Regions from separate parts of the Homo sapiens genome. Here region 1 is linked to region 2. Evidence: fine-mapped expression QTL. A gene starts in region 2. The other region holds a variant in brackets. All regions are shown on one strand. Distances are between the middles of the regions. Region 1 overlaps ZNF706 (zinc finger protein 706). Region 2 holds the start of ZNNT1 (ZNF706 neighboring transcript 1).

Evidence for each region.
Region 1: its variant is fine-mapped to the expression of ZNNT1 in whole blood (TOPMed, PIP 0.96).

What each region holds. Positions count from the first base shown.
Region 1 is chr8:101,192,941-101,197,343 of GRCh38, forward strand. It overlaps ZNF706 (zinc finger protein 706), which reads right to left. Exons shown (of 4, transcript NM_016096.5): 4 at 4,112-4,403. Among named protein-coding and RNA genes, the nearest start is that of ZNF706, 11 kb to the right of the region's middle. The variant C/T (reference allele first, on the strand shown) is at 2,179.
Region 2 is chr8:101,167,697-101,172,099 of GRCh38, forward strand. ZNNT1 (ZNF706 neighboring transcript 1) reads right to left here and starts at 2,543. Exons shown (of 1, transcript NR_164368.1): 1 at 1-2,543.

The sequences.
Region 1 (4,403 bases), 25 kb after region 2:
TATACTCATTATTTCATTTGCTTGTTAACTTAAAACAATCATTTGAGGGAGGTATTAGTTTCTGTATTTTTTTTTTTTTTTTTTTGAGACAGAGTCTCACTCTGTTGCCCAGGCTGGAGCGTAGTGGCACGATCTCAGCTCACTGCAACCTCTGCCTCCCAGGTTCAAGGAATTCTCTGCCTCAGCCTCCCAAGTAGCTGGGATTACAGGCGCCTGCCACCACACCTGGCTAATTTTTGTATTTTTAGTAGAGACTGGGTTTCACCATCTTGGCCAGGCTGGTCTTGAACTCCTGACCTCGTGATCCACCCGCCTCGGCCTCCCAAAGTGCTGGGATTACAGGTATGTGCCACCACACCTGGCCAGTTCCTGCATTTTATAAGGTGACTAAAGATAATGCAACTCAGAAAGGTGAAGTAACCTGTCCAAAATGAGAAAGGAAAAAGCAGAGCCAGATTTGAACTTAGGTGTTTTCCATTTTTCTCACTGGGTCATTCGACTACAGCTTTAAATTCTTATGTTTGGCCATTTTCTATCCTATTTAAGTAAGAAACTCTGTTGCTATCAGAAATGTTCCTGGCTATTCAAAGCAAGGCTTAAATACAGTCTATTTTGTTACTATGAAAATCCGCATACATAAATATTAAATAATAGAACCTAATAAAAGACAGATCCCAAACATGAAAGGTTATTTTGTTACTGTAACTTACTAAACTGACTTAATCTAATAAAAATACTATTTCTTCATAGTAGTCAGGTAACAATAAAAAACATATTTCAATAGTCTTGAATAAAAAATATGCCTTAAATGCAAACTGTGGATTTATACTTTATCTGATAGTTAAGGCTTCCAGCAAGTGGTTCAGACAGAGCCTACAATTTTGTTCTCTGTGTAAAATAAGTTACAGGTTTCATAACTCTAGTTATCTGGTGTTTCCTGGCAACTCTCAGTTGTTCCAAGTTTACTGTGGATAGCAGATTGAATATAGTCAGAAGGCCCCAACAAATAAATGGGCAATGGACAATTCACAAAATAGTAACTGTATCTGGCTAACAAATGCAGTTAAAATATTCCTGCTCCACTAGAAATCAAGGAAATATACAAGGGTTAACCTACCAAATTCAGGAAAAAGTGCTAGTATTCAAACAAAGGTAATGCAGTAACATGCAAAACATCATTGGTCAAGTATTGCCTGGTCCTATATACTATACGGTCTGCAACTCTGGTTCTCTCTCATTTGCTATTTTAATAAAGTATTGTACACTTTTCAGAAGAGCTTTAAAGTTTTATGATGTGTAATTCTAAATGTAGAAATGAAGCCTTCTGCACAAATAAGAGAAAACCTAAATGTCCTACAACAGGAAAATGGTTAAAAAAAACTACAGGTAATCTACCCAATGGATCATTATGCAGCCACAAAAATTCCACTTAGCACAGTTTATAACACGAAAAACCCACCTGTTATGTTGTTAAATGAAATGGCAGAGTACAAAGACATAATATGAAAAAAGTGACTACAAAATTCAAAAACATGCATTAATTTAAAAAAATCTATGTGGTAAGAATGAGAGAGAGAGAGAGAGACAGACATGGATACTATTCCTCAAAATGTTTTGTACTGGTCAATTTGTAAAATCCAACCTTACCACAGTCTTCACATTTTTATATATGAGATATATTTCAAAATGTGTTACTTTTATAGTGAAGTAGAAGACAAGAAATGTCGTGTATAGCCACACTATAGTCTGGGGTTATTTAGTGCAGGGACAAACATCCCTAAATACAGCTTTTTGGGCATTAGTAGTATCACTGCATTAGAGCACAGCAAAATTCTTGCCCATTAATCTATATTCATAATAACCTAGAATAACCAAAAGTTGTATTATGATAGTAAACTGTTAAATAGAGAAACATACAAGAGGTTGTAAGAAGATCTCCATCAAACCAGTATCGACACAGTATTTCATTAATATAAATCTTCCTGACATACTTTCATCATGTCACTCCCGTTCCCAAACCCTGAAAGAGTCCCCAGTGTCAGGAGTAATTTGAACAATTTTCTGCAGTGTGCACGCATTGCACAATCTGGTCCCATTCTAACGATTCTCCCCACTCTCATCCACGGGATCAAAGGCTCTCATTCACAAGCCTTGTGCTCGGGCTTGCCTACTCACTTT[C/T]TCTCAAAGAAACTTTATGTACTTTTGCTCAATCAGCCACCCACACCTTGATTTCCCTATTCCTTCCTACTCCTCCCTCAGCTGACTCCCCATACTTCCAGGCACAGACTGCCCTCTTCAACCCAAAGCCATCCTATATACACATAAACGCACACATGTACATATACCTCATTAAGTTATTGTCTATAAAACACACCAAGCACTTGGCCATATAGCCTAAAATTATGTAAATAAATATATGTATTATCTCCAGAATGCATCTGAATTTCCAAAGATTAGGGAACTTTGCTATATTTCTTTGTATAATACATTGCTTTTATATAATACTTTACAGCTCACAATGCAACTTCACATATATGATTTTCAATAAATACCTTAGTGACTTAAACTTCTCAAAGAGTTCATCCTAGAAAGATCTGGGATAAAGATATTCTTCCTCCCTACAACCCTCAAATAATATTAGTTAATGACAGAATTAACAATTACTTCATACTGAAGATATTCCCATGTGAATATAAAGAAATGACCAAAGTCTGTCTCCGAATGTGCAGATTTTAAATTTGGAGCCATACGGTATTCAAAGAATAGAAGCTAAAAAATGGCTATTCAAAAAAAAAAAAAAGAAGGATACCTCAGTAAAAAAAACTTATCAAAACAACATTTAAAATAAAAAATATTTTCAATTTAACATGGCAATCTACAATTAAAAATGACAGGTTGAACTTTTATTTAAAAAAGTCTATTTTCTTTGTTAAGTAGACAGATGTTTTCATTAAACCTACAAACTGAAGGCTCTTAAGATTTTTCTGAAACTTTTACAATAAATAAAATTAAGGTAGCCTAAACTATTTCAGAATGTGAAGTCACAGTAAACACAACTCCCTGGTGTTGATCTTCATTGCCATATACTGTTAAAAAGTACATGACCAAAAAAGTACTCTGACCAAAACTAAACCAAACACTTTCCAAAAAACCAGAAATCTAGTACAAATGAATTAATTCAGACTGGGTGGTTTAAATATAGTATTTCAGTTATAGTTTGGACTGTGTTTGATCACTGTGTTATAGAAAAAGGCCTTTATCCACATTTAAAAATAGGTACAGTATATTATATATATATATATATGGAGAGAGAGAGAGAGAGAGAGAGAGAGAGAGAGTGAGTCTCGCTCTGTTGCCCAGGCTGAAGTGCAATGGTAAGATCTTGGCTCACTGTAACCTCCGCCTCCCGGGTTCAAGCCATTCTCCTGCCTGAGCTTCCTGAGTAGCTGGGATTATAAGCATGTGCTACTAGGCCCCGCTAATTTTTGTATTTTTAGTAGAGATGGGGTCTTGCCATGTTGGCCAGGCTGGTCTCGAACTCCTGACCTCAAGTGATCCATCCACCTCAGCCTCCCAAAGTGCTGCGATTACAGGCGTGAGCCACTGCACCTGGCCACATTACATATATTAATGAAAATTAAAAACATGGGTTTTCCTAGGTAAAATAGTAATGTTGATAAATTCTATCTTATGCTGCATCTCAGGTTTGAATTATGATGTCATTAATTACCTATATAGTATCTTTAATATAAAACTAAAACTTCAAATCTTACAATATCATCAAGGACTTACCCATCCAATTCAATTAACTGACCTAAGTATTTTTCATAATTGTATTTTTATGTTAATAGCCAATCACTTCCCCCTTTCCAACAATTCACACTTATTCTATACAGTAAGGTTTCAAAATGACAAGTTTTTTTCCACCCAAGTATTCTACAGACCTCAAAAAGGGAAAGACTGCAGGGAAAACGAGAAATGAAAGAAATCTCTTGCTACCCTCAAATCTACCAACCTATACTTAAGAGCCAATTCTAAGCTCAGAAAGGAGAAAAAAAAAAGTGGGAATATAAAAACCTCTTAAAATGTAGAAGAAATTAGACTAGTTTAGTTTTCTTTAATATCTTCTTTAATAAGACATTACAGCACACAACTGAGCCCCCAGTGTGTCAGTTAAACATGGGGATGAATATCCATGTGAAGAGAATGGAAACAAGTTTAATCTTAACCCCATTCCTTTTGGCAAGTAATAGAAATACAGCATACAAATGGACCAATTCTCTCTCAGTGTTATTTTATCAAGTCTTTGAAGACACCATAACAGTTTTATAATGAACTTTGCTGCAATCTGTTAAAGAATCTTCAAATTAAATTACAGGGATGTTTGGTTTTTAACTCAAACA
Region 2 (4,403 bases):
CTTCTTCAAAAGCAACAGTTTTAGCTGGGTTTGGGGTTACCTAGCATAAGACCATATTTCCTAGAGTTCTTTCTGCTGGGTGTGGCCATGTGACTAAGCTCAGGCCGATGTTATAGGAATAGAAGACATGTAAGCAACTTCCTGGTGATGTTTTTTTGTTTTGTTTTTTAAAGAGATGGGGTCTCACTATGTTGCCCAGGCTGGAGTGAGGTGGTGTGATCATGGCTCACTGTATCCTCCAACTCCTGTGCTCAAGTGATCCTTCCACCTCAGCCTCCTGAGTAGCTGGGACTATAGGTGCACACCACCACACATGGTTAATTTTTAAATTTTTTGTAGAGACAAGGTCTTGCTTTCTTATCCAAGCTGGTCTCAAACTCCTGGCTTCAAGCTATCCTCCAGCCTCGACCTCCCAAAGTGCTTGGATTACAGATGTGAGTCACTGCACCTGGCCTGGCTATGTCCTTAAAATGACTGGGTGGTACGTCTAGTTCTCTTTCTCCCGTTTTTCTGCCTGGGAGATGATGAGAACTGGAGCGGTCATCCTGAGCTTACAAGGGGAAGCCTTGTGTTGAGGAGGGCTGATTAACTGGACTTGGACCACCTGCCTACCTCGACCGTTGTGAGAAAAATTAACTGCATTGTGGTAAATCCTTTGCATTTTGGACTCTTTCTTACAGCAGCTTAGCCTGTACCTCACCTCCACTTATGAGCCTACTCATTCTGCAAATATTTCACCAGCCTAGAAAGAGCTTCTCCATCCTCTGAATCCAAAGCCCTTTGACCTGCCTCTTGTGTTTGGCCTCACTATTTACCTGGTACTACATTTGTCTGTGCATGAATCTTACCTGCTCTTTGCAGGCCAAAGAGGACAGGGGTAAAAGCTTAATCGCTTTCTATTACACAATGCCTAGCATATTGCCTTGGACAATGATTGGTTCCCAATAAATGTGTTGAATGAAGAAAGATGATTCTTCATTGTCTGTATACATGAATGAATTATAACAAAATTAGAAGCTAGTGATATTTGATTAAATAACCATATCTAAAAACTACTAGATAAGAGATTACTGTCAAGCTAGAGAATGAGGTGCCAAGTTGGCAAGCTACTGGTTTTTCTCCTGTTCAACATTTGTATCAACAACTTCAATGAACGATAGTCAATATACCCATTGTGCCTGTGGATAACACAACGGGAAGCCAAAAAAAAAAAAAAAAAACTAGATAAGAGAGTCAAAAATCAAAAAGATCTGTACAGACAAGAATAATGGATGAAAATTAAACATTAACAGAAAAGTTCTGAATATCAGTTCAAAAGTAGGCAAAGGGAAATAATGGAAGAGAAGTAGTTTAATTAAAGACTATGAAAAAGGCTTAAGGATTTTATTTGATTGGAAGTCTGGTATCAGTTAAGAATACAATGTGTTGGCCAAAAAATCCTAGTGCAATTCCAGGCTGAATACATTCATTCAGCAATGATTTATTGGGTGTCTACTAAGTGCTTGGTGTTGTGTGGAAAACAAGGATGAAGGTGTGGCCCCTGCTTTCGAGCAGCTTACAAAAGTGACATGTGTTCCTCCTAGACCACAAAGTAGAAAGCATTTGGTGCTGCAAAGTAAAAGAGACAGGAAAGGTCGGCACATGTATGATGAAGGGGAAGAGTGGGCTTGTGGAGAAGCACAAGGAATGATAAGGTAGGGAAGATATTTCAGTGCCAGTCTGTAGTAGGTCCTTAGTGCCAGGCCAAGAAGATTGGAAGTTATGTGAGGGGATGAGGAAATGAAAGATTTTGCAGCCAAAAAAAAAAAAAAAAAAGATGGTCAGTGTTTTAGGAAGATTTCTTTGGAAGCAGTCTGTTGGACAAATTGGAGTGGGGAGACACACACACAGAGGCTTATACTTGGCATCATTTCAAAGATTGATGTTCTTGTTCCTCATCTTCATTCTATAAGTGGAGAAAGTGAAGCTGAAGGTTTAAATGATGTCCCTAAAGACACAGAGCTGACAGGGGTATGCAGAAGCAGAATCCAGGATGGTGCTTCTGGGTCCAGTGGGTGATAAACCAATGGCAATTAGACCTTGCACAGTTGTTGGAGTTTAGAAAAACATTTCTGGAGGGACTTAAGGAAACCAGTTAAGAGATCATTTCCACAGGCAAAGTAAAAAATATTGAGCACTGAAAGTGGAAAGAGGGTCAGCTGGGGGAGAAACTGCTCTGATGCTGTGGGTTGAGAGGGAAGGAAGCAAGGCAAAGAGGACTTGGAGACAGAAGGACAGCAGTGGGATGAATGACCATGGGGAATACAAGGATGAAAAAGCAACTTGGAGGAGTACCATTTTGAGTGGGGCCAATTTTTTTTTTCTTTTTGAGACGGAGTTTCGCTCTTGTTGTCCAGGCTAGAGTGCAATGAAGCGATCTTGGCTCACCACAACCTCAGCTTCCCGGGCTCAAGCGATTCTCCTGCCTTAGCCTCCCAAGTAGGTGGGATTACAAGCACGTGCCACCATGTCTGCCTAATTTTGTATTTTTAGTAGAGATGGGGTTTCTTCATGTTGGTCAGGCTGGTCTTGAACTCCCCACCTCAGGTGATCCACCCGCCTCAGCCTCCCAAAGTGCCGGGATTACAGGCGTGAGCCACCGTGCCCAGCAACAGAGATTCTAGTGGGGCCCATTTTAACAGAAGGGGCACTGGAAATGAATGTGTCCAGAAGAAGGTAACTGGAAAGCAAATTGCAGGAATGAGAGAAGGAACTGCTTAGTCTGGGAAAGCCTAAGTTATTTGCAGAATTGAATTGAAAAGATTTCCGGGGAGAACAGATAGCTAGCATCCTACATCTGTAGAGCTTTTACAGAACAATGTTAAGTTGCCTCCTAACGAGCTTTAGCATGGCACCAGTGGAAGGCACTGTTAGATGGCAGCAATGCAGAGTTGTGGAAAGGCCAAGGGGCAGAAGATTTGAGGCAGATCAGCTCCTATCTGTGAAGCAGTATAGTGGGAGGAGCACAGACTTTGGAGTCACACAGACCTGGGTTCTAGTCCCAGCCTACCTCTACCAGCTATGTGACCTTGGGGAAGTTGCTGAACCTCTTTGTGCCTCAGTTTCCATATGTACAAAATAAAGAGGCTAGATTGGAAGACTTCCAAGATCTTGTCTAGCTATAAAATTCCTTGGTTCTAAAAAGGTGGCTTATGTGCATAAAATAAATAGATGGAAATACAGTATTATCTTCTTTGGATTTTGCTCTCAAATCTGTACTAATATTGGTTATCAAGTATGCACAGCCAGCCTGCTTCTGTTGCACTGCATGATGGCATGTAATGATGGAACAGAGCTGACATGTTCACAAAAGCACTTTTCTCTGTGGGTAGGAGTGGAAAATAGTTCCATTTAGCTGATATCACTAATTTTTAAAGAAAACCATATGAGCTAAAGAGAACTGAAGATGAATGTGGGAGCTATGAGTCAACCACTGAATCTCAGCTGCATTAATTTTACATTATAAATGACACAGTTTTAAAGTTTCTTAGATTTTATAATAGTTGAAATTTTTCTTTAAAAGAGTACACCCTATACATGCCGATACACGTTAAAAAGATTGAACATTTCTTCCCATTCTAAAGCATCTTGAAAACAATGACTGTGCTGTTAGCGATTTTTAATATAAAATACATTTCCTAGCAGTGTTATAAACCGCTAACAGCACTTTTTGTGAAAATTGGCTACTTCATACAAAAAAAACCTCACAGTTTTTGTTATCTTTGTAGGATTTTCTTCCCCCTTTTTGAATTGTTTTATAATGGATAATGTTGCTTAAAAACATCCAGCATTTCCATGAGAAATGAAATATTCAGAAGACTTCTGGATAAGTGATATTTATACATAGTTCCTTTAATCTTAAATACCTAACTCTTAAATAGCATATAAGAGAAATTGTTTTCCTTTACCGTCGTAGATTAAAAGTGGCATCACAAATTTTCAGGTAGGAAACTAAAATATAAGACCTAGAGATTATATAAGAAAGATCCACACTGGCCATCCTTACCTCAAAGCAAACTAAGACCCAGAGGCAGAGAAGAATTTCAAAGCCTGACTTAGAGGATTGTGGAAAATAATTATATCAAATCAAAGTTTAGGACAATCTTGGACCATGGAAAGAAGAAAAGAACATTTAGCACATTGTTAAAAATAGATACTCATTCTCTTTTAACCATAGACAGTTCTTTAACATCTTACATTAGCAACACAGACAGACTGGATCCAGTTTCAGTTCATTCTGTCACTTAACCATTCCACGACTCAATTTTTTCATCACCAAAATGGGGGCGATATTATTTCCTAGCAGGCTAAGTGTGCAGCTGACATGTGACGATGTGTGTGCAGTCCTTTGTAAATTATACAGC